4 linked regions of the Homo sapiens genome follow. The protein of the gene in region 4 purifies or fractionates together with the protein of the main gene of each other region. This does not show direct contact. Each region holds a gene or a part of one and is shown on either strand. Other genes may lie near its edges.

What was found.
Region 1: the proteins of UBXN11 (region 4) and NCKAP1 purify together in Homo sapiens (affinity purification with mass spectrometry; 2 studies listed by BioGRID and IntAct, with this or other methods). This does not show direct contact.
Region 2: the proteins of UBXN11 (region 4) and WASF1 purify together in Homo sapiens (affinity purification with mass spectrometry; 3 studies listed by BioGRID and IntAct, with this or other methods). This does not show direct contact.
Region 3: the proteins of UBXN11 (region 4) and RTEL1 purify together in Homo sapiens (affinity purification with mass spectrometry; 3 studies listed by BioGRID and IntAct, with this or other methods). This does not show direct contact.

The regions. Positions count from the first base shown.
Region 1 is NC_000002.12:183,035,275-183,043,173, reverse strand, and holds the start of NCKAP1 (nck-associated protein 1), read left to right. Parts: upstream 1-4,716; 5' UTR 4,717-5,074; coding exon 5,075-5,182; intron 5,183-7,899. UniProt on the Homo sapiens protein: Part of the WAVE complex that regulates lamellipodia formation. The WAVE complex regulates actin filament reorganization via its interaction with the Arp2/3 complex. Actin remodeling activity is regulated by RAC1.
Region 2 is NC_000006.12:110,120,534-110,127,969, forward strand, and holds part of WASF1 (actin-binding protein WASF1), read right to left. Parts: intron 7,097-7,436; 5' UTR 7,069-7,096; coding exon 6,936-7,068; intron 1-6,935.
Region 3 is NC_000020.11:63,688,916-63,696,351, reverse strand, and holds the end of RTEL1 (regulator of telomere elongation helicase 1), read right to left. Parts: intron 7,298-7,436; coding exon 7,220-7,297; intron 6,851-7,219; coding exon 6,704-6,850; intron 6,603-6,703; coding exon 6,487-6,602; intron 6,266-6,486; coding exon 6,142-6,265; intron 6,059-6,141; coding exon 5,911-6,058; intron 5,548-5,910; coding exon 5,405-5,547; intron 4,611-5,404; coding exon 4,515-4,610; intron 3,548-4,514; coding exon 3,349-3,547; intron 3,210-3,348; coding exon 3,069-3,209; intron 1,981-3,068; coding exon 1,864-1,980; intron 1,612-1,863; coding exon 1,378-1,611; intron 1,287-1,377; coding exon 1,131-1,286; intron 1,025-1,130; coding exon 702-1,024; intron 575-701; coding exon 494-574; 3' UTR 107-493; downstream 1-106. UniProt on the Homo sapiens protein: A probable ATP-dependent DNA helicase implicated in telomere-length regulation, DNA repair and the maintenance of genomic stability. Acts as an anti-recombinase to counteract toxic recombination and limit crossover during meiosis.
Region 4 is NC_000001.11:26,296,380-26,303,815, forward strand, and holds part of UBXN11 (UBX domain-containing protein 11), read right to left. Parts: intron 6,789-7,436; exon of another isoform or gene 6,664-6,788; intron 6,540-6,663; 5' UTR 6,505-6,539; coding exon 6,434-6,504; intron 5,344-6,433; coding exon 5,315-5,343; intron 4,646-5,314; coding exon 4,547-4,645; intron 1,684-4,546; coding exon 1,583-1,683; intron 1,103-1,582; coding exon 1,048-1,102; intron 617-1,047; coding exon 540-616; intron 1-539. UniProt on the Homo sapiens protein: May be involved in the reorganization of actin cytoskeleton mediated by RND1, RND2 and RND3. Promotes RHOA activation mediated by GNA12 and GNA13.

The sequences.
Region 1 (7,899 bases), on a different chromosome or scaffold from region 4:
AACAAAAAGCAAAAACAACAAAAAAGGAAAGCTAAATCTATAGTTTTATAGAGCAGGTGCAAATAAACATGTGTGAGTTATATTACCAAAGATTAGGCATACTATAAGATGAATCTAATTGGATGTGAGTGGTCAAGATCAAGGCTGTAATTAATTCTTTATTTTATTTCATTTTTTTAACTTTTCAGATCAGCTGTATTTCTGGCATCTCTTCTACTGATTACTGGAGATACCTCATGTGTCTTTATTCTGGTCTCAGTTACTCTTCTGCTCTACTGAGTTGCAATCTCTGGCTAAGTCTTAACTCCTTCCTTCATTTACTATGGATACTGTTGCCCTGTCTTTTCCTCACTGTTGCCCTGTCTTTTCCTCATTCTCTTTCTTAATAATTTTTTGGGGAATAAATGTTATACCTTGTGGTCTTTGCCAAGCAGAAGAACAGGACATGAATTACTGTTAAACCACAGGGAAATCTATTGTCCTTTTCCACTGTTGTTCACCCAGGGTTGGTTTCTCTGCATTATGGTCTCACCAAATGCAATTTTTTAGAATGGCACTTCCTTGAAAAGCTCTATTAATTTGTTATTCACTTATGTCTGACTCTTCCCACAGCTTGGGCCCTTTTTCTTTCTGCATTCAATTTTGTCAGAAGGTGGTGGCTTCCCAAAGGAAGGGTTGAAGGACAGACAAAATTACTATGTCTACTTCTCAATTCCCAGGCTATTTCAAAGAGAAATTTGTTCATACATTTCTAGTCATACTTAGTAATACCTGGTTAGAAGTTTAATGGGAGGAAAAACATTATATTTGTCTTTAAGATCAAGTGGAACACTGAAGTTTGATGGGAGGAAAAACATTATATTTGTCTTTAAGATCAAGTGGAACACTGCCTTTGATGGCAGACCTCCTAATCAAAGGGCTTTATCCTAAGAACCTATAGAGATACCCTTAATCAATTTTTCTCACTTCTTGCCTTATATAGAGAAGCAACACTGGGTTGGGTAAACTAAGTGATTTTAAAAAAAGAACGCATAAACATTCTTTATGATTAGCAAAAGATATTACAGAAATAATTCTCATGCTAGTTTCTGGAGAAAGCAAAGCTAAAGAAAGCCATCTAAAAAAGCTGATGTATCGGTCAGGAAAAAATATGGCAGACTCTTAACTGTGAATTGAAGAAAGTGAAGGAACTGTTTATAAAGGTTTGAGCAGGGTTATAGGACTCTAGAGGAAACTATAGAATCATGTTCACTGGATGCATGAAAAATGTAGTGCCATCCAACTGTCTTGTCACAGTAGTGCACCAACTTTGGAGTCAGACCGATAAGGGATCCAATATCAGCTTTACCATTTTCTATGGGTGTGATCTTTGGCAATTAAAAAAAAAAACTGTCTGCATTTCAGTTTTCTCATCTGTAAAATTAAAGATGATAATATCTCTAAAGGTTTTTGAAAGAAGTAAATGAGAAAATGTAGCTCAAATTGTAACAACATCTGACACAGTGCAAAAACCATAACTATTAAATCTAGTTATCCTCCCTTATTTTATTCCTATTAGAGATATTATAAAGTTGGCCACAGAAACTTATTATTGAGGATCACGTTTGAGGATTATTGAGAATCACGTTTGGCTGTAAGTAAATAAAAAAAAAAACAAATAAAAAAGCTAGAAGTTTATTTCTCTTTCGTACAAAACCAGGTCTAGACAGGCCAAGTTTGACATGGCTGTTGTGTTCTAAAAAGCCCACATACACCTTCCATTTTTATGTTTTGTCATCCTTACTGAGTGGCTGTTGTCTTCCTGGTTCAAGATAGTGGTCATTGCATCCTTGTTGGGTGTGGCAGAATGAAGGAAGTGAGGAAGAACTGGCAAATGGAGAGCAGCAGCAGTCCCTTTAGGAAGGTTCTTGACAGCTTATATCTTACTGGTCAGAACATAAGCTGCAAGGGAGGCTGGATGATGGATGTACTTTTCCTTTTTTTTTTTTTTTTTTTTTTTTGAGACAGAGTCTCACTCTGTCACCCAGGCTGGAGTGCAGTGGTGCAATCACGGGGCTCACTGCAACCTCCTCCTCCCGGGTTCAAGTGATTGTCCTGCTTCAGCCTCCCAAGTAGCTGGGATTACAGGCACGCATCACCATGCCCGGCTAATTTCTGTATTTTTAGTAGAGATGGGTTTCACCATGTTGACCAGGCTGGTCTCAAACTCCTGACCTCAAGTGAGCCATCCACCTTGGCTTCCCAAAGTGCTGGGATTACAGGAGTGAGCCAGCGTGCCTGGCCTCAATTTCTCTCTTTCTTTCTTTCATCTCTCCTTCCTTCCTTTCCTTCCTCTCTCCCTCCCTTCCTTCTTTCTTTCCTTTCTCCCCTCCCTTCCCCTCCTCCCTCTCCTCCTCCTTCCCTCCCTCCCTCCTTTGCTTGCTTGCTTCCTTCCTTCCTTCCTTCCTCTCTCTCTCTTTCTTTCTTTCTTTTTAAGACAGGGTCTTGCTCTGTCACTCAGACTGGAGTACAGGGGTGTGATCACAGCTCACTGCAGCCTCTGCCTTCCGGGCTCAAGTGATCCTCCCACCTCAACCTCCAGAGTAGTTGGGACCACAGGCACGCCACCACCCCCAGCTAATTTTTAAATTTTTGTAGATATGGGGGTCTCCCTATGTTGCCAAGGCTTGTCTTGAACTTCAGGACTCAAACAATCCTCTTGCCTTGGCCTCCCAAAGTGTGGGGGTTACAGGTGTGATGGAGCTTGAGCCTAGCAGTTGAAGACCAGCCTGGACAACATAGGGAGACCCTGTCTCTACAAAAAAGTTAAAAAGTTTAAGAAAAATTCCCGTACACTTGTTCTTTTTAATGCAAAATGTAGAGAAAGACAAAAATTGTAATTCATCTACATCTAATCTCTTTTACGCAAATATATACATTTCATTACAGTCTAGGGCCAGTATGTCTATGAATTAGTGACAATAAATATTGAATAATGAGACTACTATCTACAGCGTTCTCCTATTGGGTACTTCCTGAGTTATAAGCAGCTACTAGTATTCAAGTTTATATGGCAACATGATAGTTTTTCTTGGGGAGTAAGAGTTGTGTTCAAATTTATAATACAGTGCCATTTTCTTGTTCTCCCTATACAGCAGTTTTTAAAAACTAGAAAATGAGACAATCTTTTATTGGTAGCACTCTGTAATTCTGCGTCTAGACTTAGTTATTTGTAGTCTCCCTAAAGGAGCACATATTTCCCCAATGTTCAACATTTTTAAATTTTCTTATCTGGCTACCCCAAACCCCTCCTCGCAGCCTCCCCTTCTCAGGTCTGCCCTTACTATTCCAGGCCCCACAACCTTGCCTCCTCTAAATTAAAATGTTAACTATCAGGCTGAGAAGTAACCAGATAAATTAAATTCCTTGACCAGTTAATGACTAGTAATAGCTCGACAGATGATCTCTCTGAAGTGTTTGTATTCTTAAGACTCTCTAGGTACAAAGCATTCATTCAAGGTACTGCAGCTTTGTATATAGAATTTCAGGCACACTGGCAGGTATGATTATGACTTCTTTTGGTGGGAACAGGACTCTTTTAAATGCCCCTTAGATTAAATCCATTCAGTCCACTCCTTCTTTCTTGTTGGAATATTAAAATGAAGATTTCTTTACGAATAGTAGATATAGTAGCTTTAAAAAATATTTTAAAGCTATTCATTACAATTTCCTTTTCTTAAAGAGTTTTGATAAATCCAGTGATGGCTTATTACTCTTAGAATGTCTTATTGAATGTGGCGGGACATTTTGTTACTGACTTAAAATTAATGAATATAATATAAAAAATTAACATATCGAGAAAAGGCAAAGCCAAAAATATTAGAGGCCTGAGTCCTCTTGGCTGAAGTTTCTCACCTCAATTACGTAAGTCCTCAGTTAGTTCACTTTTGGAATCATGTCTAATACATTTGACAAGGGAGTAGCCTTGGAGTGTCGCTAAGAAGAAATTGATCAGGAAAAATGAGATGGCAAAGAAGAATGTTTCCAAGAAGAAGTGGGATTTAGGGTGGAGGCTGTAAAAAAATGGGAGCGGTTCCTTTAGGCATTGAACAAACATTTATTTTTTGCCTTCCACATGCCAGGACCTACTGCGTCTCCTCCGGATGGGTGCTCCTCGCCGACAAAGTCTAGATTGTGATTATCTCAAGGACTTGAGTTACCCTCACTTCCGACCTCCTCTCTCACAAACTGGTTCCAGGCGGGGAGACTGAGGATGGGCTGGGGAGGCTGGCAGAGGCGATCCCCACCTCGCGGAGCACAACATCTGCTGTGTTCTGCGGCGAGCGCCTGTCAAGCAGTGGGAGGAAAAAGCGCTTGGAGCCACCAGCCCACTCTTAAGCGAAACTCGCCTGGAAAACACCCCGCCTCCCAGCAGAGTTTCTGCCGGTTTCTTTAGAAGGGTGGTGCGGAAAAGCAACTTTTGGGAACTTGAAGGAGTGGGGTGTGGGGCGAAGTGGAAAGAGCACACAACGCGACCCCACTCAGTCCCCGCTTGGGACTCCCATCCCGGCATCAGGCGTAGTGGGCGGTCCGGGCCAGGGCCAGGGCCAGAGCGGCGGCGGCGAGGCCATGCCGAGGGCCCGTCGGCCGCAGTTCCCCGTCCGGCCTCGCGGGGGCGCCGGCGCTGCCGATCAGGTGACCGAGGGCCCGTCCGGGGCTGCGGGAAGCGGCCTCGTTCTCAGCCGCCGGAGACGCCGCCGCCGCCGCCGCCGCCGCCACACCTAGTGGAGCAGCCGGGGAAGGCGGCTCGTTGGGGGCTGGGGCGGAGAGCGCCGGGGGTGGGGGCGGAAGGGCGGCGGGCGGAAGGCAGGAGGCTGCCGGGGCGCGGGCTGCTGCGGGAGAAGGGGCTCCGAGGAGTCCGCCGCGGCTCGCTCTGTCGCCGGCGCGGGATTGGGGCGCGAGGGCCATGGGCGCGCTCTCCTAAGGCGGAGGTCGCGGGCGGGAGGGGAGGAGGCCCGAGAGAGGCTGCTGCGAAGGCCGCGGGCCCGTGACTGGGCGCGAGGCGGCCGGCGGCGGCGGCGGCACCAGCACCACCATGTCGCGCTCAGTGCTGCAGCCCAGTCAGCAGAAGCTGGCGGAGAAGCTCACCATCCTCAACGACCGGGGCGTCGGCATGCTCACCCGCCTCTACAACATCAAGAAGGTGCGCACGGGCCGGGGAGGCCGCGGCGGAGGCGGGCGGGCCCGGGAGGGATGAAGGGCAAGGGAGGCCGTGGGGTGGGGGCGGCAGGAGGCGCCGGGTGTAGAAATCTCGGCGTCGCCGCCCGAGGCCCGGCCCGGGGTCGCCTGGATGCGCCGCGGCCTAATGCGGAGTCCCGGGCGCCTCTCCCTGTGGTTCGCCGGCCGGCCGAAGGCAGAGAAGCCATTTCCCGGCTCCCGGCGGCGGGATCGGGCGCTGGGCCTCGCACGGGGTGGGGGCGCCGCTGGGAGCCGGGAGCTGTCCCCTCCTCGGCGCCCCCGCCCCCATGATGGGGCCCATAGGAAAGGGAGGGTGGTGGGTGGGCGAAATTCTAGGTGGGTAGGAAAACTTGAGTGTTCCATATTCTTACGGAGATGGCAGCAGTGAACAGGGATTACACCCCACATCCCCATTTTTTGGTGTGGGAATGTGGGTAGAGAAGGGCTGATTGGATGAATCCCGTATCCCCTCCACTTTGCCACTTTATTTTAGATTGCTAAATAAAAAGCCATTGAGAGTGTGTTGACGATTTGGGATTATTTCATTTTGAAGGTGGAGAGGAGGGGGAAGTGAGGGTGGAACCAATTTTCTGAAATACTTCTAGGCTGTGAGTCACTAGAACTGGAATAACAACCTTCTACTCTTTCCCCTGTACTCCTCCTCATGTTAGATTTTCCAATACCATTTCTTAAAGTTCGGTGTCTGTACAAAATAAAAACCGTAAAAATGTTGCAATTGCTGCTGATTTATAGCATAGTCTGATAATTTGAGCAACTATAGCTAATAGGCCCATTTAAAGGCTTTTACATGTCCTCAGTACAGTAAGGAGTGGAAGACCACTGGAAGTTTAGAAAAGTCCATGTAAAGATAGAACAAATAATTACATTCATTATCGTAGGACAAAACAACAAAATCTCTCCCCTTAAGGCAAGGTTGGTAAGTTTTAAACAATTTGATAAAGAGAAAAAGAGATATTTGGAAAATTTAGATCCATCGAGTTTCCAATGTGTCTTTGATGTCATACCTTCATAACTATTTGTTGGCTTTTTAATATATCGTGAATGTTACCGTTTAGTTTAATCATAGCAATAGATTGTAGGTTGAGAGGGCTTCTGAAGAAAGGTTTTTTTTTTTTTCTTTGGAAATTCATTTCCAAGCGTTTGAGTGTAAAATTGATTTATTTTTTACAATTTGATGTAGACACTAATTCTAAAGAGTGTCCTGGTTTAATGATGATAAATTTTGGATAAGGACAAAGTCTGGTTGCTCACCTAATTGCAAGGCTTTATTACTCTAAACCCAGTGCTATCTGGAGAGTAACTGCAACATGCTTACTCAGTTTGTTACCTTTTATGTGGCAGGAGCTCAGTGTCATGACAAAGAAGCCCCTCTGCATTTACCAAGGAGCCTAGGTTATAAATTTATATAGGTTAGGAATAATTCAGTTTTAAATAGTATTACTTAGAGGTTGCATTGACCTGAACTGTTCGGGGAGATTGTGCTGCTTAAAAAACTTGGAAATTGATTCCTATATGAATTTTGTCCAAAAATGAACAAGTCAAATATTATAAAAGTTACTAGACCTGTGGTATTGTGGTTTAAAGGAAATGGTTATGATGGTTTCTAAAAGAGGAAGTGAGAGTAACATCAAAAGTGATTTGGGTATTTGGGCAAAATACCTTTTCTAAGCATTTATTAAACATTTTTGTAGGATAAATGCAATCAAACTTTAATATCCCACCTTCATAAATAAGATTAAATGAAATTCTGGGCATTTGAACTCTAATAATTCCAGTTCATTGCCTTTTCTCAAAAGCACTGTTTTTTTCACTTCCTGTTTTGGGAAGCTTCAGCCTCTTGTATTATTGAACTTGTGAAAGTTAAAATGCATTGAATGTGATCATTATTATATCCATGTCAAATATTTTGATTTATTGAAACGTCATATTTTAGCACTTGCCTTATATTTTTAGTTTCTTAAGAAATACATTGCTTACCTTGCTTGAGTGTGAATTTTCTCTGGGCAGGGACAGTGTAATTTTTGAAATACTAGAGTATTTAGGGCCTTATCTGATACTCGAGGCCTTCAGTTAGGCCAGGTTGAAATGAATGAATTACTTCCCTCCTCTCTCTCAAAACCTGTGTGCTCTAGTTTTAATAATAATACCCTTGGGTTTGCTCCCTTTGTGTAATTTTGCATGTAAATGAATCAGATAAGATTTTGGATCTTTCAGCCTATAGAATTGTCTGTGAGTCTGGCATATCTTCCCAGCTGGCTAGGAATTGAAACATTTGTTCAAATATCTTGCCAAAGAAGTGAGTAAGATCTGTTCACCATGTGTTTATTAGGTTCATGCTGTCTGCATTCTTACTGCATTATAAACCACATACTCTTTTCAATCTCAACCTCTTCTAGTCTTAAAAAAAAAACCTTCCACCTCATAATACATGTTTGCCAATCAATTATCACATTTTCATTAATGCATGTGCATTAGATTGTCTACCAGATCTAATTACTCTGTTTCAATTGGAAGTATACAGTGGAAATGATATTTTAGTGAACATATACAATGAAAAATAGTTAAGTAAAATAACTTATTATTGTCAGTAATATGCTTTGGCGCTTATTAGGGAAGTTGGAGCATGATTACTGAAGAATGTTTTTTTTTTTTAATTTCATC
Region 2 (7,436 bases), on a different chromosome or scaffold from region 4:
AGAGGACACAAACAAATGGAAGAACATTCCATGTTCATGGATAGGAAGAATCAATACCGTGAAAATGGCCATACTACCCAAGGTAATTTATAGATTCAATGCTATCCCCATCAAGCTACCAATGACTTTCTTCACAGAATTGGAAAAAACTACTTTAAAGTTCATATGGAACAAAAAAAGAGCCTGCATAGCCAAGACAATCCTAAGCCAAAAGAACAAAGCTGGAGGCATCACGCTACATGACTTCAAACTACACTACAAGGCTACAGTAACCAAAACAGCATGGTACTGGTACCAAAACAGAGATATAGACCAATGGAACAGAACAGAGCCCTCAGAAATAACACCACACATCTACAACCATCTGATCTTTGACAAACCTGACAAAAACAAGAAATGGGGAAAGGATTCCCTATTTAATAAATGGTGCTGGGAAAACTGGCTAGCCATATGAAGAAAGCTGAAACTAGATCCCTTCTTTACACCGTATACAAAAATTAACTCAAGATGGATTAAAGATTTAAATGTAAGACCTAACACCATAAAAACCCTAGAAGAAAACCTAGGCAATACCATTCAGGACATAGGCATGGGCAAACACTTCATGACTAAAACACCAAAAGCAATGGCAAGAAAGCCAAAATAGACACATGGGATCTAAATAAACTAAAGAGCCTCTGCACAGCAAAAGCAACTACCATCAGAGTGAACAGGCAACCTACAGAATGGGAGAAAATCCTTGCAATCTACCCATCTGACAAAGGCTTAATATCCAGAATCTACAAAGAACTTAAACAAATTTATAAGAAAAAAAACAACCCGATCAAAAAGTGGACAAAGGATATGAACAGGCACTTCCCAAAAGAAGACATTTACACAGCCAACAGACATATGAAAAAATGCTCATCATCCCTGGTCATCAGAGAAATGCAAATCAAAACCACAAGGAGATACCATCTCATGCCAGTTAGAATGGTGATCATTAAAAAGTCAGGAAACAACAGATGCTGGAGAGGATGTGGAGAAATAGGAACACTTTTACACTATTGGTGAGAGTGTAAGTCAGTTCAACCATTGTGGAAGACAGTGTGGCAATTCCTCAAGGATCTAGAACTAGAAATACCATTTGATCCAGCGATCCCATTACTGGGTACATACCCAAAGGATTATAAATCATGCTACTATAAAGACAAATGCACATGTATGTTTATTGTGGCACTATTTACAATAGTAAAGACTTGGAACCAACCCAAATGTCCATCAATGATAGACTGGATTAAGAAAATGTGGTACATATACACCATGGAATACTATGTAGCCATAAAAAAGGATGAGTTCATGTCCTTTGCAGGGACATGTATAAAGCTGGAAACCATCATTCTAAAAAAACTATCACAAGGTTGGAAAACCAAACACCAGATGTTCTCACTCCTAGGTGGGAATTGAACAACATGAACACATGGACACATGGTGGGGAACATCACATACCCGGGTCTGTCGGAGGGTCGGGGGCTGGGGGAGGGATAGCATTAGGAAAAAATACCTAATGTAAATGACGAGTTGATGGGTGCAGCAAACCACCATGGCACATGTATACCTATGTAACAAACCTGCACACTATGCACATGTACCATAGAACTTAAAGTATCATAATAAATAAGAAAGAAAGTAAAGAAGCAGATCTCCGATTTTAAAAAATGGAATCCAAAAAAAAAAAAAAGAAGACATAGAAGAAGTGGTGTCAGAAAACAAATTGACATTAGAGAATCTGGCAAAAGCGTTCCAATTATTCAAGACTACTTTTGATTTATTTTACAACGTGAACCCTTCTATGATACAGTACCAAAACTAAAGCAAATAAAAGGAGGATTGGTACCATATAAAAACATTTTTAGAGAAATGAAGAAGCAAAAAAGTCAGAAATCAAGATGTGTTTTTGTAAAGTTACACCAGTGTGCCCACCTCTACTACTTCTACCTCCTCCACCTCTCTGCCTCTGCTACTCCTGAGACAGCAAGACAAACTCCTCCTTTTCCTTCTCCTCTTTGGTCTGCTCAATGTGAAGATAACGAGGATGAAGACTTTTATGATGATCCACTTCCAATTAATGAACAGTAAGTATATTTTTTCTTATGGTTTTCTTAATAACATATTCTTTTCTCTAGCTTACCTTATTGTAGGAATACAGTATACTACTACACATACAACATAAAATATACATGTTAAGCAACAGTTTATGTTCTCGGTAAGGCTTCTGGTCAATAGTAGGCTATAGGCAGTTAAGTTTTGGGGGAGTCAAAAGTTATATGCAAATTTCTGGCTTCACTGAGGATCTGTGCCCCTTACCCCTACACTGTTCAAGGGCCAACTGTATTTTAAACTTTAAACCCTATCTAAAGTCACCCAGCCATGACAAAGTGGGGAAAAAAAAAGAGATACCCTGGGAAGCCTGCTTTTAAACCTTGTTCTACTACTTTCTGTTAAATGATTTGTGTCTAAAATGGAAATTACTTGCTTTATCTATATCTGTCCACCTGATGAGGGTTAGAGAAGATTATGATGTAAAGGTATATGCAAATAATATGCCTGTCAATCTGAAAGCATTTATATGTAGACTGTAGCATTTATATATAATCAGCATTTATATATAATCAGCATTTATATTAGCTAGAAATAAATTTTAGGCCAAGTAGCAGAACCCAAGATTCATCAAAGACCTAGAAGATTATCTGTCCCAGGGATGCCCAAGATATAGATTCAGAAATTTAGGAGATCTTTTACACCCTCTTGTTACAACTTCTGAAAAAAAAAAATCATAAATCTAAAATCACTGTATTCCTCTAGTTGTGTAAGTTCTTATTACTGAAAAGAGTAAGCCAAAATAACTTGAAGAAGATCCCTGCCATTACTGAATTTTGAGCAGAGGGAGAACCAGACATTTAAGCAAATATTTAAAGCAATTTAATAGATAAGTCCTAATATTTGTTCTATTCACTGTGAGACCTTGGTATCAATTTCCTTATCTGTAAAATAGGAATAAAAACATCTGTCTCTAAAAGAAGCAAGAAAAGAGCCTTGAAGTGCACCTCATACAGAGGAGCCCAATAACAGGCAGCTCTTAATATAAGGTAAGAGCAACACAGCAGAGATAGAAGCACCTCACTTTCAGGTGTCAAAAGTTATTTGGTGATCAAGATACTTCCAGAGACAGTTTCTCTGGCAGATAAGGGAAGCATCCCAAATGGAAGAAAAAGCAGGTATAAAGTTACTCATTTATTCAACAATTGGTAGGGATACAAATGCTAGGTGTAGATACAGAGATGGAAAAGACTAATCTTGGCAATAAGAACTGACTATATTCCATAAGAGAAAAGCCAGGGGAAGAGATCCCTTAGGTATTCAGAATCCCAGTGGTTGTTAATGAAAGGAGTTAGCTAGCTTGCTTTAGGCAGACAGTAAGGGAAGGGTCCCCAGAGAACCTCTGACCCACCCCACAAGGGCTTACACCAGATGCTTTGTGCAGATAAGGGAACTTGCACAGGGGGCTTGCTTAAACATGCCCACAGCAGACTAAGGGCCTGCATGTGCACTAGGGAAATGTGGTGAAGCCACCAGTAATCTGTGCCTCATACAAATAGGGAACCCAGCCCCATCAGCGTCTCTCTCTCTCTCTCTCTCTCTCTCCTCTCTCTCCTCTCTCTCCTCTCTCTCTCTCTCTCTCTCTCTCTCTCTCTCTCTCTCTATATATATATATATATATATATATATATATATATGCCCTTGTATTCAACTGTGACGGGGCAACCTGGAACCTGCTTTCAGGACCCCTCTCTTGGCTGAGAGCTTTCCTTTCACTTAATAAATTCTACTCCATTCACTCTTAGAGTATCTGTGTGCCTAATTCTTCCTCATCGTGAGACAAGAACCTGGACCTAGCTCAGCTAAGGAGTAAAAAACCTTGCATCATTAAGAAAGCAATAAAATGAGAAAGAGGAAATTGATATAAAGTGAATTATAGGTTTGTGGTAATTACCTAATACAAAACAGAATTATGTTCTACTAGGAAAAATCTCACAAAAAACAGATGTACTGGCTGGGTATGGTGGCTCACACCTGTAATCCCAGCACTTTGGGAGGCCGAGGCGGGTGGATCACTTGAGGCCAGAAGTTCAAGGCCAGCCTGGCCAACATGGCAAAACCCCATTTCTACTAAAAATAATACAAAAATTAGCCAGGCATGATGGCACTCGCCTGTAATCCCAGCGGCTTTGGTGGCTGAGGTACAAGAATTGCTTGAACCTGGGAGGTGGAGTTTGTAGTGAGCCAAGATCGCACCACTGCACTCCAGCCTGGGTGACAGAGCAAGACTCTGTTTCAAAAAAATAAAAAAAGGAAGTACATTTTTGTGAGGAAAAGGTCAGGAAGATATCCAGCCCTGAGCCATGTGGATCCCTGCAGTTTACTTTCATTGCTATATTCTCAAGCACTTTCAGTACTAATAATAGCACCAAAGTGAAAATCTCCATTATCTAGAAACATTTTGGATAGCCAAGTTTTCTAAGTAATTCAGATTTTATTATCTAATACATCAATTGTTATTTTAACTATTTTCGATGGAAACTTGTGAAATGTATTCTAAGCTTCCCTCTTCTTAAATGGAATATAAAATTAAACATAATTTAATTTTTTCTTAGGGACTCACGGGCATGAATTATGAAAATCAAATATTATCCTAGGCCAGAAAACAGCCTTGAAATGTATAAGGATATTTGCTTTACATTAAATGGCTTCTTTCCAGTTTTTATGTTGCATCTTCCCTTACATCACTTTGTCCTTTCCTGTGAACTACCTCCTTTTGGTTGGGTTCAGTGATGCCTCCTTCTAGTATCTCCTCCCATGCTTCCTCCTTTTATCCTCTGAAGCATAACTGTTTGGAAACCACATCATCAAATCTGTTTGAACTATCAAGGTAAAAGTAAACAGGTTTTGAGAGAGGGATCAATTGGTTATTTTATGTGCATGGTCTTTAGTGCATGAGTTTATTTATTCTGGCTATCTAGAGGCCTTTTAAATTTAATTCCAGGTTCTCAACTATGTCAAGTGGGAAAGCTGCCAGAGAAGTTAATTTCAGGGCAGTAAGCTATTGTCACACCTTGCTAGAATATTTTATGGGTTTTCTCTTTGTTTTTGAATCTCTACAAACTGCTTAAACAATGCCTTCCAGGTCTCTGATTCTAAATGTGAAGCACCCAACACCTAATTTAGTTATATTGTTACAAGGTATTTATAATTTTCAGAGTTTCGCTACAGCATAACCATGTGCCTGCTGATAGATGTTGCTTATATGGACTATATAGACTTAAAAATTCCTTAAATTTTCATCTTTAAGTTTTGTAACAAATGGGTTAGTACTGCAAATTATCACCCTTAATCACAATATTAGTTCTAAATTCTATATTGGGTATATACCTAAAATAAGATGCCTGTACTGGATCCACAATTCATTTTAAGAAATATGTTATACAAAATTACTAATGCCATTTCTATGTTCTTAACATGTATTTTAATATTAGCATGCTTATATACTTATGTATGTACATAACATATATAAAACAAATTTTATATGACATCATGTTATACTTGATTCAATCCGTGCTAGGTCACAAAAAATCTGCAAAATATCTTTAAACAATATAGTTAATCATATTTAAACTGGGAACTCTAACACTTTTTTTATTAGCCTCAAGTAAACAATACAATATTTTAGTGATTCACTAACCTGAAAAAAATGACCACTGAATGGAACAAGGAATATACTTAAAATTCAAATAAAATAGCCTTTTATTTATTCTTACTATTTCACAGGCAATGCAAAAATTTAGTACTCTCACAGAGAATATTCAAATGTAACTTTTTATGTTGCTCTCGCTACAGGTATGCCTAAACTTTCTTACCGGAAACAAATTAGATTAACAACCTCTTGTGCTAAGTACTCAATTATAAAAGAAAGGACAAAAGTTAAAAGGAAAAGAAAAGAAAAGCCAAGCCTGCTTATCAGGAGAATTTATATGGCTGATGAGATAAATCTAGGACCACTTGGTGGATATTATCTCTGCCAAGAACACCTTGTTTCACCTTTAAAATGAAATATCAATGTCTTATGAAAAAGCTAATCCTTCAATGCAAAAGACAGACCAGATTTTTTAAATTTTCTAAATAAACTTAGAATAGAAAATAATTTGTTTAATTCCTTAACCAAGTTGCTCTATTCTGTAAATCTGCAATGAGAACATATTGCCTGTCTCCTTCTCCCTAATCTGCCTCTTTCACTGGCCTTTATTCTCTGGCCAACCTGCTTGACTTCTGTCTGCCAGAGGCCAAGTTCATTTGCTGTTTTCACACAATGCTGCATATCAGATTCCTGACTTATATCCTAATGTCTCTTAGACATCCCACTTGACTAGCCTACCCCTCTGACTAATAATGACCCCATACCTCTCACCTTAGATCTTTGCTAATATAAAAATATTTCCCTAAACTAATTAAATATATATATAAAGAGAGGGATACTAGTGTTTGAAAACACAAATAGTTGAGGCCTCTAAACAGAGTAAATAGTGATAATAACCAAGGAAAAGTACAACTCTGGTCCTTTCGCAGATTATATATTTTTAAAACAATCTCAATAATTTTCATTCATCATGTGTTTCTGTTCCTAGAGATTCTGTCCGTATTTTCCTTTCCCAGAAGAAACATCATGCAGAAGAGGTTCTTGTAAAACTCAATAATTATACTCATGTGACTATATTTTTCAGGATAATTTTGTACTCTTCTCACCAAATCATACTCCCAAATTAATCAGAAGCACAACTTCTTAATACGCTAAAGCATAACATTCTGGTTTGTGAGTATATTTTTAATTGATATATACTTACTTAGGCTACTTAGTTGTCTAATTATATTTGCCAAGGAAATATTGGTTACACATTCCAGTTCATTCTTAATGCCTCTAGGCAGTGCTGTGTGGCACAAGTGCCTAGGATCGATGTTTCTTTTCACTAGCGGCATCTTGAGATTAACCTTTGTGCCAGTTCACCTGTAGGAAATCAAAAATAAATTAACAATATTAAATTTCAGCCAACACAGAATGAGACTTTATTTTTCATTGAAGAATAAAGCACTGTTGACCCTTGAACAACATGGATTTGAACTGCCTGGGTCCACTTACTGGTGGATTTTCTTCCCTCTCTGCCTCCCTGAGACAGCAGGACAAACCCCTCCTCTTCCTCCTCAGCCTACTCAAGGTGAAAATGACAAGGATGAAGACTTTATGATGATTCACTTCCACTTAATAGTTAATTATCTTATGATTTTTAATAACATTTTATTTTCTCTGGTTTATTTTATTGTAAGAATGCAGCATATAATACATATAA
Region 3 (7,436 bases), on a different chromosome or scaffold from region 4:
CCACCGTGGAGGAAGTACAGTGTCACATGGCAGGCTGGGAGGGGCCTCTGCCAACTCCCTGTCCCTCAACTCCCACCACCAAGCCCAGGCCACGAAGACACCGTCCTGGGCACTGCCAGCAGCTTTATTAGAGAGCCCTGTCCCCTGATTAAAAGTGGACACGTGCCCACGGGGGTCTCCTCCTTCCCGGTGAGGGGCTCAGCTGGGGTGCCCCTGTGGCACCACTCACAGGCCAGGAGCCAGGGAAGTTCTGGGGAAGCACTTTCCCAGAAACCCACCCCAGACCCCAAGGTAGCTCAGGGCTTCTCAGAGGCAGGCCCAGATCCGGTCCCACCGCAGGGACCAACCATGGGCCCCGCCTGCCTGAGGCCTGCAGCGGGCCAAGCCGGCTGGCATGGGCTGGCCTATTCTGTTGGGTGGGTTCTTGGCCCACCAGAGCTGGACAGGCAGGTGATCAAGCCACGTTGGGTGTGCTGGGGGCCTCCGTGGGCACTCACTGGGGCTCTGGCCAGAAGACCTGCATGACGCTCTGCTTCCTGGAGGCGGTGTGGCAGGCTGGGCACATCCTAGAGGCCTGTGAGACAACCGGCCCACTGCACACGTCTGCCAGGCGTTGCCACCAGGACAAGGGCCTGCCCTTTCCCCCTCAGCCCATCACCTGGGGCTACACCCAGCAGGAACTGTAGTGGCCAGGCACCAACCTGAAGGTGCCGTTGCCAGCAGGCTTGGCAGCGCTGGAAGTCACAGGCAGGGCACTGGAAGGGCACCACGTCCTCTGCCCCACAGCCCTGGCACACACAGCCTGCTGAGAGGGGCCCGCCCGGAGCTCCCGTGGCCTGCTGCCCAGCGATGTCTCTCCCATGAGGCTCACCCCACTCAGATGCTGCAGGCCCGTGGGGAGGTCCTGAGGACTGGCTGGGACCTGCATCCTCACCGCCCGCCCCCACAGTCCCTGCTGGCCTCTGTCTAAGGAAGGACGAGATCTTGCTCTGGGTCTTCCCGGTCTTCTCGGACCGTGAGGGGCCTGGAGACAGAGACTTGAGTCTGAGGGGGGCCTGGGGCTTTGCTGCTCACTCCCAGGGCTGCGTGCGGTTGGGGCGCTGCCAGGAGCAGCCAGGCAGGTGCCCTACCTGGTTGGGGAGCCCTGTGGGTAAGCACAGGAGGCACGGCAAGCCTCTCCTCCTGGGGTCCCGGTGGCTCCATGCCCGGGTAGGGCCGGCCGGTCAGGTCTGTGCACGTCTGTGAGAAGCGCTGCTTGTGGTGTGGACGCACAAACATGCTGAACCCTGCGGGGAGCTTCAATCAGACCCGGCACAGCCCCCATTTTGTCCCCTGCCCCCCACCCCACCGGCTGTTCCCCACGCCAGGGCCACTTGCTGTGCAGCAGGGGGAAGTCCTCTGGCTTTGCAGTGGTCAGGGCGGCCAACACAGCCAGCACCTTGTCGAGGTCGTCGTCTTGCTTATAGGCTGTCAGCGCTGCCAAGAGTTGGCTACAGCCCGCGGACCCCAGGGCCCTGCGGGCATCAGCCAGGTAGGCGCTCACGGCGTGCTGGCCCTGCTTCCCTGCTCTGGGCACTCCAGACCCCCACTGTGGTTGGCTGCCAGGGTCTCCTGGTGTGGGAGTAGCATGGCTCAGAGTGGCGCTGGGGTGGAGGACTGAGAGTCCCACCGCCCTGCCCGCCCTTCCTCCAGGAACTCCTGGAGAGCTGCTCAGGACAACTGCGGGGTGCAGAACCGGGAGCAGTCCCCACCATGAGATGGCTCCCCACAGGGGCAGCCCCGGCCACACTCAAGAGTTAGCCTCGTGAAGCCACTGAGGGACCCACCAAGTCGTAGGCTGCACACGGTTCAGGAGTCAGCTACCTGTTGGGGGTGGCCTGGGCGACAGGTGGGGCCTGCCCTGGTTCAGGTGCTCTTGGGGGTCCAGCTGCTGGGCTGCAGCCGTGGACACGGTCAGCTTGGGATCCGGCGCCGTTCTTCCTGATGAAGAGATGTAGAGCCACAAAGCTGGTCGAGAGCATCTGGAAAGTTCCCTGGGGTGGGGGGGCAGGGCTGGCTAGGGAGGCCAGGCCTCACCCACCTCAGACCAGGGCGGGAAAACCCAGGCAGGTACACGCCTGGGTGCTGGGGGCATCAGAGGAGACACCAGCCTGCTGGATGGGGGCTGGAACAGTGGCGGGCAGGCCAAAGCCCCACTCAGGAGCTCAGAGCCGTAGGCTGGGTGCAGGCATGAGGATATCCCAGTGAGTACCAAGCCCAGAAGGGATCTGGGGTCGTCCCAACAGGCTAGGTTCCCCCCTGGGTGAACTAGGGGAACTCTGTAGGGGCTGTTCATTAACACACGAACACAGATGCTTCCGCCTCTGGAGACTTGGACTCCACCCCAAACAGAGGCAGAAACAGGGAGGACAGGGGTCTAGGACCCTAGGACCCTGGCGTGTGCAGTTGACCCCCCAGGACCATGCATGGGAGGCAGGGGACGTGTGGCAGTTGGACAGGGCTGTGCTTAGGGGTCGGGGCTATGGCAGGGACAGGGCTGTGCATGGAGTTGCACAGGGTCTCCCCAACAAGTGATGCTGCTGCTGGTGGAGGTGGAGGTGGTGGTGGTGGTGGAGGTGGAGGTGGTGGTGCAGGTGGTGGTGGTGGAGGTGGTGGTGGTGGTGGTGGTGGTGGTGGTGGTGGTGGTGGAGGTGGTGGTGGAGGTGGAGGTGGTGGTGGTGGAGGTGGTGGTGGAGGTGGAGGTGGTGGTGGTGGAGGTGGAGGTGGTGGTGGTGGAGGTGGAGGTGGTGGAGGTGGAGGTGGTGGTGGTGGTGGTGGTGGTGGAGGTGGTGGTGGTGGAGGAGGTGGTGGTGGAGGTGGAGGTGGTGGTGGAGGTGGAGGTGGAGGTGGAGGTGGAGGTGGTGCTGCTGGTGCTGGTGGTGGAGGTGGAGGCCCCCATCACTCCCATAGGGGAACAGAGAGGCGGGGCCAAGCAGGGCCCGAGGATGCCCACCCCAAGCAGCCCAGGACTCTGGCCCACACTGCCTTCCACGCAGGAGTCTGAGGGTCCCACCTGGGGCCCCATTTACCAGTGGGGTCCAGGACCGGCTGTGCCCGCTGCCTTCGGGGAATGCTGTGCTCAGGCCGATAGCCACAGCCTCGTCCTGTCAGCTGGATACAGACCTCCTCAAACTGCTGCTTATGGTGGGGCCGCACAAACTGGTAGAAGCCTGTAGAGGAAGGGGCGTCTGTCCCCATCTGCCCCTTTTTCTCTAGAGAACAGAGACCACCTTGGACCCAGATGGCCCCCACCCCACACGCGGCGGCAGCACTGCCCTCAGGGTGGGTGGCCTCTGCAAGCCAGGGCACCTTGGAGCAGGTTGTGCTTCTTGGGGTCCTCAGCAAAGAGGGGGCCGAGACAGGCGGCCAGGGCGGCGAAGTCATCGGAACCCTTGTAGTCCTGCAGGGCCTGGGTGAAGGTGGCAAAGTTGGCTTGGCTCAACTCCTGCTTCACGGCCACCATGAAGAGCTTGGCCCTGTCCGTCTGTGCACCAGCCACGGGCTCCTCCTGCAGGACACAGGCCCGAGGCTCCATCAGGGCCAGCCTCATCATCTGGTCCCTGGGGCTGCAGAGCCTTCCTTGGAACATTGAGCGTTCCCTGGGACAGTGACTGCCGAGGTGGGGCTGCTGCCTGAGAAACTGGCTGGCTGGATGGACATAGGGAGGGGCTGCGGGAAGAAAGCTGTGGGGCTGGGCCCGTCTGAGGTCACACAGTGAGAGGCTGGCAGGGAACTGAGAGCAGTGAATGGGCAAAGGGTAGATTGGCTCTGCCTCAAGCCAGGGGTCCTGCATGGCCCGTCTCTCTCCTCCTCCCTCAAGCCCCCTGCCCCACAGCGGATGCGGCTGAGGCTCCCAGGATGGCAGCGCACAAGGAGGGGCTTCCGGATGAGCAGTGCCCATCTCTCTACACACCCCAGACCAACACGGAAACGTGGAAACCAAGGCAGGGGCGGCCCAGGCACTCCCCACCCAGGCCCTCGCCAGCCCAGGCCCCTCAGCAGCCACCCACTTCCTGATGGCACCAGCCCTGCCTGGGCACCACCCAGTTCTTCCCAGAAGCCAAGGGACATGGACAAAGGCCGCCACACTTGGGGTTTTCCAGCAGGCAGGGGGCTTCCTGGCTCCGGCTATAACTCCGTTCTTTGATCCAAGGCTAGGAATGGGCTGTGTCCCTCACATGAGGCAGGTGTGCATCCACACTTGAGGGAAATGCCAGGGCCAAGCCCAGTGCTGCAGGCCCCATGCCAAACCTGCCCAAGGGTGGGGCCTGATTCCAGCTGGGACTCATGAGCCCCCTGCAGAAGAAACCACACACTTGAGCCCCTGGCCGTCAGCATCACAGCTGCCCTGGACATCAGCTCCTGGGGGTGGATTCCCTGGTCCCATCGGGACCAGCCGTGGCTGGGGGCACCCACGGCTGCGTTCCCATGCGTGTCTATGGTGGTCGGCACAGGTGCAGGGACAGCTCACGCACCGGGTGGCTGACCAGCCGGATCTTCTTCCTCCCTCCTCGCGGTTCTTCTGCCGGCCTCTTCTCAGACAGGAGGGACAGGGTGGAGCAGCTGTGGGCCTGAGGAGGACACAGCTCACAACCACACACAGACCCCAACCACACACTCTGGGGTCCCAAAGCACCTGGACGCACAGGGAAGATGGTCCCAAGGAGCCCTGAGCCAAGATGGAGGTCGGGGGAGGGGGGCACAGCACACCCCGGTGACAGTGCCACAACTTGGTCCTGTCCAAGTCACACCAGCGGCTCATGAGGCTCGCAGGTGGTGACTTGTAAGAGCAGGTCCAGGGAAGACAGTCCGACCACAGCGAGGGGCTGGCAGGAAGGGGACACAGGTGCCTGGTGCCTGCACCTGGAGCTCACTCCAGGGGCCTGAAGGGCAGGGATGGGCAGGAAGAGGGGAATGGCTCCCAGCAGGAAGCAGGGAGAAAATTTCGGGTTGGCCTGAGGAATTATGGGCTTCTGGGGCAAAAGGCCCCAAGGAAGAAGGAACCTGGGTTCCACCCGCAGCACATTCCTGGAGAAAGGCCAGCCTCAAGCGCAGCCAGTGGCAGGGGCACCCGACCTTGAGTGCACTGAGCCAAGCTGACCCGCCAGAGAACCAAAGTGATGTGGGGGGCACCCGCGGAGGGCCAGGGCATGCACCACCTGGGAGCCAGCAGCCTGTGGGTGAGGTGGGGTGGAGGACCCACAGACAGCCAGGCAGCTGGGATCCCCCGCCCGCTTGCCCGCCTGCCTGCCAGGCAGGGGATTTACAGGGGTGTGTGGGGAGGTGCCTGAGGCCAGATGGGCGGGGTCGGGTTGGCCTCAGGAGACAGAGGGTCTGTGTCCATCCCAAGGCCCTGGAACTGTACCTGCTCCTCGCCAGGGCTCCCCGCCCGCTGTTCGCTGTGCTCCAGGGCGGCCAGCAGCCCCCTGGGCCTCTGCCGGGCAGGAACTGGCTCCTGCTCATACTCCACACACAGGCTACTCTCGGGGTCCCCGGCAGCTGGTGACCCTGCAGGGGCACCCGAGTGCGCAGTGAAGCCCACGGGGGGCCCCAGCTGGGGTCCCTGCCTGTGGCAAAGCCCCTCTTGGGGGAGAGTCCCAGCACTTGGGGTCCTGCCTGTGGGTGTCCTCCCTGCTATTGGGGGGAGTCTCAGCCTCGGGGGGCATCCTTGCCTGGGGCGTTCTCTGCCTGTAGGGGAGGGTTGCAGCCCGTGGGGGCCCTGCCCTAGGAGGGAGAGGCAGCCTTTGGAGGTGGGAGGGGAAGCGCACAAAGCCAGGTGAGTCGCCTCCGCCCTGGGCGCCTGGTGCTGCCCGCCCCACGCCGCCCGCTCCGCCACCCCCACACCGCCCACCCAGCGCTGCCCGTCCGCACCTGAGGACCTCTGCTTCAGGCTGGGGACATGCAGGTCCAGACTCTTAGCTTTCCTGGTGGAGAAGAAGGGGCCAGGCGACTTGGCCTCGCTGACAGCATCTTCTCCACGCACACTGGGTGCTGTAGCCCGGGGGGCCGGCGCTGGCATCTGCAGAACCATGGGGGTGGGTGGACCCATTTCTGGCTCCTCTGGGGACAACACCCTCATCCCCTCCCTGGGCAGGAACTCACAGTTCGCTCGGCAACACGGAAGAACTGGGCCACGTCTCGGATGACATGGCCAAAGTTGTCATACACCCTGACGTGGGGACGCACCCAGGAGGGCAGTTGGGCTCTTGCGTCGGCAAAGGCGAACCTGGGGGGTGGCCATAGCCCTGCTGCCCTGCCCACAGCCGCTTCAAGGGTTCAGTTCACCGAAGTGAAGACCCTCATCTGCTGCAGGGGCCCCACGCTGACCCCGAGTAGCCGGAGAGGCTCTGGAGGAGACGGGGCCTCATGTGGGGAAGGAGAGTCCAGGGGCCCAGTGGGGTGTGGGCGTGTCCCCTGGCGCCGCGCCTGCCACCGGACTGCACGCACCTGTGGTCACAGAGGAAGACAGCTCCGTAGTCCTGGCGGTGCCGGATCACTCGCCCGATGGCCTGGTTCACAGCCCTGGACGCCTGCTGCCGGTACCACTCCTGCCCAGAGAGGAACTGTGGGGCGAGGCGGCTCGGTCACGGGGGCTCCCTTGGCCACGGGGCGGGGGCTCAGTCACCAGACCGCCTTACCCCAGCCCCACCCTGCTGTAACTCACCTGGCCCCCAGCCCCACCCTGGCCCTTCATCTCATCCAGGAACTGCATCTTGAGGACAACCCGGGGGTCCATGCGTGGGGGGTACGGGAGGCCCGTGACAATCACACCACGGCCATTCGTGTCTGAGAAGTCCAGCCCCTCGCTGGCCTAGGGGACACACCAGGGAGCTGCCTGGGGCCGTGGGGGCTCCTCTCCCTGGTGCCCACACCCAGCCCAGCCACCTTCCCCGAGGCTCCGTCCCCAACCAGGGGTGGGAGGAAGCTCCATCTGTGGGTCAGGACCCCACTTGGGGTCCACAGCTCCCAGACGCCACCTCCAACTCTTGTGGCCAGGAAACTCCCATCCTGCCTGCCCAGGCCCAGAGCAGGACACGCTCCCAGCAGGGCCAGCAGTCGCTCTCGTGGGACCCAAGGAGGGGACCGGGCAGCCCCCAGGGCCCAGAGTCTGCTGGGGAGCCATAAGCACCCACCAGGGAACAGGCAACCAGGTCAGGGCAGAGGGCCCTGGAGAGCTCACCTTGCCCCGGCAGACCGCCAGGAAGGTGGCGCCGGTGGACCCAGGGGCGGCAACCCTTGCATAGTAAGCACTGATGGTCTGGAAGGAAAGTTGGTGAGGCTGAGCCTGGAGCCCCCCCCCAGCCCCTTCCTCCCCCATGAGGGAGACCCAGGTCTCATGCTCCAAGATGAAGGATCGTCCTAGCCAGGAAGGCCAATCGGGTTCTGGAAGCTTCTTC
Region 4 (7,436 bases):
GAGGCACTGAGAAAGCTCGGGATGGAAAACCTGCCTAGGAGGCCCGGGGGATATGACTGAGGACAGTGGAACTGACCTGGGGGAGGTGGGGAAACATTTCAGCAGAGGGAACAGCAACAGCACGGCCCAAGGCCCTGAGGTGGGAAGCAGCTCCATGAGGTCAAAGACCCAGAGGAAGGGCCTCATGGCTGGAGGGGAGAGTGGTTCAAGCTAAGATGAAGAGGCATGCAGGGGCCAGCCCGCAGGGGCCACAGCGAGGACTGTAGAATTCAGTTCAGTGGGAGCCATGAGGTCTGCTAAGCAGGGGAGAGGCATGTTCAGAGGGCCCAAAAGCAGGGGTGTGCCCCAGCCCCAGACACCTCCCTGGCTCTTTAAAGTCTGGGCCAGTCCTGGGTAGGGAAATGCAGGGCAGGGTCCCTGGGTGGGATGTGACGAGGAGAGGCCCAGAGAGGTGGGCTCGGACCCAGCTCCTGAGGAACATGCCGTGAAGAGCTGGGGACTGCTGGCTGCCCGCATCCCCCGGGGCCCAGCTCTCTCACCTCCATCTCCCTGACCTGCCGCTGCAGCTGCACACACATCGTCTCCAGTTCCTCCTGCCGCTGCAGGGTTGCCTCGGCTTCAGGGAAAGACAGGGACAGGCTTCAGCTGCCCCAGCAAGACACTGCCAGGTCACCTCTGCCCTGAGGGTCATCTGGAGAAGCTGTTCTGGGGATCCCCCAAGAACTGCCTCTTGGCCCCCCACCTCTCTGGCCTCTCCTCTGACCCCGTGGCGGTGCCTTGATGGGCCCTAGGAGGCTGCCACTCCCCTCAGAGCCTCCTCTCCTCCACACTTCAGATGGGACTCGGTCCCATGTAGGAGGGCATGGAGTGACTCCAGCACTGTCCTGGATATGCTGCAGCCCCTCTGTGGGCTCAGCTGTCCAGACCCCACCAAGTAGTCAGCTTGATGCTCTTGATGCCAGAAGCCATTGTGAAGCTTCCAGGAGCCCTGGGCCCAGGGGAGGTGCCTGACTGGGGGCGCAGGTCAGCCCTCCAAGAGCCCCCTACCTGGGTGTGGCCGGAGGGTCTGCACCAGGTCCTCTAGGGCCGCTATCTTCTGATCCTGTAGCATAAGACACAGGGTGAGCACAGGGCCTGTGGTTCCCAGAGCCCTGCCCAGACAGGAAGCTCCAGAGCTTTGCCTATGTTGGATGCTGGGGAGCAGCAAGCCCCTGCCACCCTTTGGCACAGCCACTTCTCCCGGACCTCAGATAACCCTCGCAGTTCCTCTGAGGTAGGGAGAGGTGCGGCCCACACCTGAGGACCCCCACATCTGAGGGTGCCGCGCTCTGCTCAGCAGTCCACTGTGCCACCCAGTCCAGGGTCTACTGGGTCCTGCTCAGCTGAGGGGAAGACCCCCCAGCCTCTCGGCTCAGGTCACAGGACCTAGATCAGGCCCAGGCCACACCTGGTCCTCGAACTGGGCAGGTCAGTGTGGTAGACGGTTCTAGAATCACCCACCCTAGTCCAACTCCTGGCCTCCCCAGCCCAGTCCCTCCACCTCTCAGACCGGCCCCTGGCCCTCTCCCACCTGGAGCCCCACCTTGGACAGTATCTCATCAGTCTGGGCCTTCACCTGCTGCTCCAGGTCCCACAACTTCCTCGTCATGAAGGCCATCAGCTCCGAGTCATGGGATGCAGGGACTGCCAAGCACACAAAGTCTTTAGAGCCCAGACCTAGAGCCGAGGCTGAGTTGTGGGGGGGAGGGAGGAGGATAGGGGTCCCAGGAATGGAAATGAAGGTACTGAGAGCAGCTCCCACTGGCATCATAGGAACTGTTCTAAACACTTCATGTAGATCAACCCCCTGTAATCCTTGAAACACACCCAGGAGGTAAATGAACTGTTTTAGGAAACTGAGACACAAAGGGATCAAGTAATTTGTCCAACATATACAAGGAAGTGGTGTAACATATGGGTGACATCACCCTGAAGCATTGCCAAGAATTTCACCCTCGATCTAATCAAACCTCCAAATCTAGTGTCCAGTTGGTACGCAAAACAGCAGATAGAGGAGTGAGGCAAATACCCCACGGGCAAACTGCCAGACAAAGCCAGAATGCGGGGTGCTGTAGAAAACAGTAGCCAGGGCCGGGCATGCGGTGGCTCATGCCTGTAATCCCAGCACTTTGGGAGGCCAAGGCAGGTGGATCACTTGAGGCCAGGAGTCCAAAACCAGCCTGGCCAACATGGTGAAACCCTGCCTCTACTAAAAATACAAAAATCAGCCGGGCGTGGTGGCAGGTGCCTGTAATCCCAGCTACTCGAGAATCGCTTGAACCCAGGAGGCGGAGGTTGCAGTGAGCCAAGATCGCACCACTGCACTCCAGCCTGGGTAACAGAGTGAGGGACTCTGTCTCAGAAAAAAAAAAAAAAAAAAAAAAGTATGAAAATGGAAAAGAAGAGAAACCTACAGGAAGAAGCAGGCCTTTTCCTTTTCTTCCCCTAGACAGTGTCCTTTCTATGTATGAAGCAGGAACCGCGGCCATCATCCTACAACCACATGAGGCTGACATGTCAAGGCAGGTTCAGTGGAAAGATGGAGAAACCTGAGCCCCTGATGATGTCTTGGAGTCACTGAATTAACACCCCTGGAGCTGCCTCTTTAGGATTTCTTTGCATGTGGGATAACAAAACTTCCTTAATGTTCTTGTTGGCTGAGGAAGGGTTTTCTTTGACTTATAGTTAAATGCATCTTAATTGACAAACATTTGGGAACTGTCTACACATGGAGTGCAGGTGAGCTCACTGGGGCACAGTGGACACAGAGGAGAATCCAGGCCAGAGGAACATCACATTGAAAAGCTGAGGGCCTGGGTGCAGTGGCTCGCACCTGTAATCCCAGCACTTTGGGAGGCCGAGGCGGGCAGATCACTTGAGACCAGGAGTTCGAGACCAGCCTGAGCAACATAGAGAAACCCTGTCTCTACTAAAAATACAAAAATTAGCCAGGCATGGTGGTGTGTGTCTGTAGTCCCAGCTACTTGAGAGGCTGAAGTGGGAGGACTGCTTGAGCCTGACAGGTCGAGGCTGCAGTAAGTAGTGATTTGCACCGCTGCACTCCAGGCTGGGCAACAGAGCAAGGCAGTCTCCAAAAAAAAAAAAAACAAAAAAAAAACCTGAGAGAAAAAAGGAGGTGGTGATGACAGCTAAGAGACAGAGCCTAGAAGCAGAGGGTAATGGGAGGGCAGCAGCTTGGTGCCTAAGAGCTTGGTGGAGGTCCTGAGAAGGAAGGAGCAGTGGACAGTATAGGACACTGCTGGCAGAGAAGTAAAATAAGATAGGCAAGTCCTCATCTGTTACCTTGGTAGGGACAGATATTGGCTGGGAGTGGGAGAGGAGGGGATGACAGGGGAAAGCAGGGAGAGGACACCTGGAGCTCTTTCAAAGAGAGAACCTGGTTGCCATGGTTACTACTGAAAGTGACCTGGCTGGGTATGGTGGCTCATGCCTGTAATCCCAGCACTTTGGGAGGCTGAGGCAGGAGGACTGATTGTGCCTGGGAGGCTGAGGTTGCAGTGAGCCATGATCGCACCACTGCACTCCAGCCTGGATGACAGAGCAAAACCCTGTCTCAAAAAAAATAAAATAAAAAAGAAAGTTGACCCCAGCCAGGGTATAGGAGATCTTGGCTTTGTGGTGAAATGGCCGCAGAACCTTAGGCCAGGCTCTTCCTGTCTCTTTTTCCACCTCAATTCCCTCCTCCGGTAAAATGGAAGGGGCCTGAGGGAGAATCATCAGGCCCTTCCCTATGGCTGGCCTCCTGATGGGCAGCCACCACACTGAGCACCTCGCGTGACAGGCGCTGGCCAGGGGCCCTCCACCGAGGAGCATCTCATTGAATCCTCCCAACACGCTGCCCTCGCTGTTCCCATGCCCACTTCACAGAGGAGGCCTCAGAGACAGAGAGATGCGAAGTTGCTTGCTCAAGATACCACAGCTAGTGAGCTAGTGGAAAGTTCTAACCTTATCCCCAGCATCCCCAGATCCCGCCCAGCACTCTGCAGGGCTCATCCCTGCCTGCCCATGTCTCCCCTTTTCTCAGACCTGCTAAATCCCCACTCTGGGAAGCCACCCTGATTAGCCCCATCCCACTTTAGGTGCCTCCATGAGCTCAGCATTGCCACAGCCCTCTGCCAAGCTAAGCAGACTGTCTAGGCGACTTTGGGCCTTGCCAGAGCCCTGCAGAAGCAGGAAGCTGAGCTCTACCCTCAGACTTCATCCCTCTCTGACCCTGAATCCTGAGCCCACTGATATCACACCTGGTAACTATAGCCACAGCCTGGCCTGGGGCTGGGGCTGGGGCTGGGCCTCGGCCTCCTGAGCTAAGGGTGGGGCTTGTGTGGCTTTATGCCAAGCCAGGTCCCTGCCACAATCAGCCAGGAGTGGAAGCAGCTGCCTCAGACCAAACAGGCGAGAGGAAGGGCCATGCCTCCCTAGGCCTTGCCCCGTCTCTGGGGCCCCCTCCTGCAGCCAGGACCCAGACCCTTCAGGCCTCTGCTCTCACCTTGCCGACTCACAGGGGCACCTATGCCGCCATAGCAGGAAGGGACTGAGATCTTTTCTTCTGAGCCACACCCATCACTCAACATGTCCACCTCATCTTCTGCAGACAGGGATGCCTAGGTCACCGCTCTGGGGCGGAGACCCAGAGGAAACTCAGGCCCTGGGCCCTCGCCAGTGTGACGCGGCCTATGCACTGTGCCCCAGGGAGTTTGAGGAGAGAGAATTCACAAGGCTGGGGAGCAAGGATCCAACCAGAATGGGGCTGTTTTGGAGTTCTTCCAGTCCTGCTCCCAGGGGGACTGGCATGGCCAATGCCAATGCCATGGTGGAGAGTTGGGGGGCAGGGATCCAAAGGCCTGAGCTACAAGAGTCAGGGTGGCAATGTGTGGACAGGCCTCCCGGGAGAAAGGCTGTCACACTGGAGGAGGCTGGAGGGGGAAGGGGGGCTGGGATCCAAACCCCTGGGCTGGGTAATCTCTTGGCCCTCACTTGGTTTCTAGGCACACACTGGCCAGTCCCACAGTGGGTCAAGGGGTTCAAATGTGAGTGGCAACATCTGTGCCAAGGGTATGGGGCCTCCTAATCTGAGAGCTTCCAGGAGGGAAGCCCAGCCCTCAGGGAGGACAGCATGGGAGCTGCACAGAACACGGTGGAGGCCGCTGCTCCAGCTGACAAGGGCCTTTCTCGTGTGATTTCTCTCCATCGGTCCAACTGTAGGAGGTGCAAGCACATGAGAGGCGAAGAGGGCACGAGGGCGGGGCACACTTACCATCTCCATAGATGCGGATTCCTCGCCTCCTGGGAACCCAGGCAGGAAGAAGGAAGAAATATAAGTTAGGGCCCCTGGAATGATACCAGGGATAAGGCTCTGGGCACCGGACTTCAGCCAAAGCTCAAAGAGATGGAAGCAGGGCCTCTAACTCCTGAGGACTTCCAGCCCCAAATCCCAGCCCCAGCCTGGGGTGAGACAAGGGACAGGCTTCGAGGTGTCTGACTTCACCCAGTGGAGAAGGATGGGGAAGGGGTGAAGAGCAGAGTCTTAGGTGGGAAGACTACAAGGCTTGCAAAGCCCATGAGCTCAGCCCCAGCTCTGCTCTGCAAAGGCTGTGAGGCCTGTTGCTTAACCTCTCTGAATCTTCTAGGCCTTAGAATGACTCAAAGTGGGGCCAGGCGCGGTGGCTGGTAATTCCAGCACTTTGGGAGGCCGAGGTGGGCAGATCACGAGGTCAGGAGATCGAGACCATCCTGGGTAACACAGTGAAACCCGTCTCTACTAAAAATACAAAAAATTAGCCAGGTGTTATAGCATGCGCCTGTAGTCCCAGCTACTGAGGCTGAGGCAGGAGAATCGCTTGAACTCAGGAGGCACAGGTTGCAGTGAGCCAAGATCGTGCCACTGCAATCCACAGCCTGGGCGACAGAGCGAGACTTGGTCTTTAAAAAAAAAAAAAAAAAAAAAAAAAAAAAGACTCAAAGTGGTATTCCAGAGAGCAAGAAGGAAGAGAGGTAAAAAATGTTTTGAAAACATGAAAGTGCTAGACAGATGTAAAAGATTCCCTTTACTGAACCCCACACAGGGCCTGGCCCAGGATAGGTCCGTAGACCATCTGTGTTTGCAGAATTAATCAATGAACAGTGAATGAACAGATGGGATGCCAAGCCACTCCTACAGGGCCCATACCTTACTAAAAGCACAACCCAGTTTATGCTCAGATCCAAAGTTGGGTGCCCCAGAAGAAGGTATAAAGAAAAAGACAGTGGTCAGGGAAGGCTATGTGGCCCTTCTTTGTATTCCCCAAGACACTAGGAGTCACTGTCCTCTGGCCATGGAAGGATAGAAGAGGATACAGAGGCGGGGACAGAAAGACCCCTGAGGCTGGCTCCTTACCCAGGATTCATAGGCTCCGAGGGCAGGGGCACTTTTCGGGTCTTGCTAAGGGAGGCCAAAGGTGAGCTCATAGTTCTACTTCTAGAATCCAGCTGTCAGGAACTCCCTAGAGGAATGCAGGAAGTCAGCCCCTGGGGACAGACTCAGGGCTCCAAGCCCAGGGGGTAGCCTGAAGTTTCCACTTCCCTGGCTACTCTTCCTAATGGGAAGCGCTGTCTAGGCAGCAGTACCTTTTGCCTCTTCCACTGTCTCCACAGAGGTTTCTGGAAGTTTCTGTTATCTGCCTGCTCCTCTGGGTATACGGCTTTCTGCTCTGAACTGAGAGACCTTTGGCCTGGTGGTGCTTGGGAAAGTACTGTGAGGGTGGGATGGGATGCAGAAATGAGTCAGAAGCCTGGAACTTTCCCAAACTTAGAGCCTGAAAATGCTACTACCCAGGAGGCTGTCCGTCCATCAGCCAGCTGGGTGACACAAAGCCCAAGTATCTCCTTCCCTCCCACCAGAAACCAGGTGCCACTCCCAACATCTCAGAGCCAGAGAGGCCAACCCACAGGCAGGATTCAATCAAGACACAGGCCGAGGTGGGTGGATCGCCTGAGGTCAGTGGTTCGAGATCAGCTGTCCGACATGGTGAAACCCTGTCTCTACTAAAAACACAAAAATTAGCTGGGCGTGGTGGCGTGCTCCTGTAGTCCCAGCTACTTGGGAGTCTGAGGCACGAGAATCGCTTGAACCCAGGAGGTGGGGAGGATGCAATGAGATGAGACTGCACCATTGCACTCCAACCAACCTGGGCAACAAGAGCGAAACTCCATCTCAAAAAAAAAAAAAAAAAAAAAGACACAGTCCATGTGACACCAAGGTTAAGATGCCAGGTTTTGCCACTCACTGGAGTAACCCACCCTCAGTTTCTTTTAGTATAAAATGGGGGTCGTAATAGTACTGGCACAGGCAGGGTTCTGAGCAGATTCAGAGATAACAGAGAAGGTCTAGCCCAGCGCCA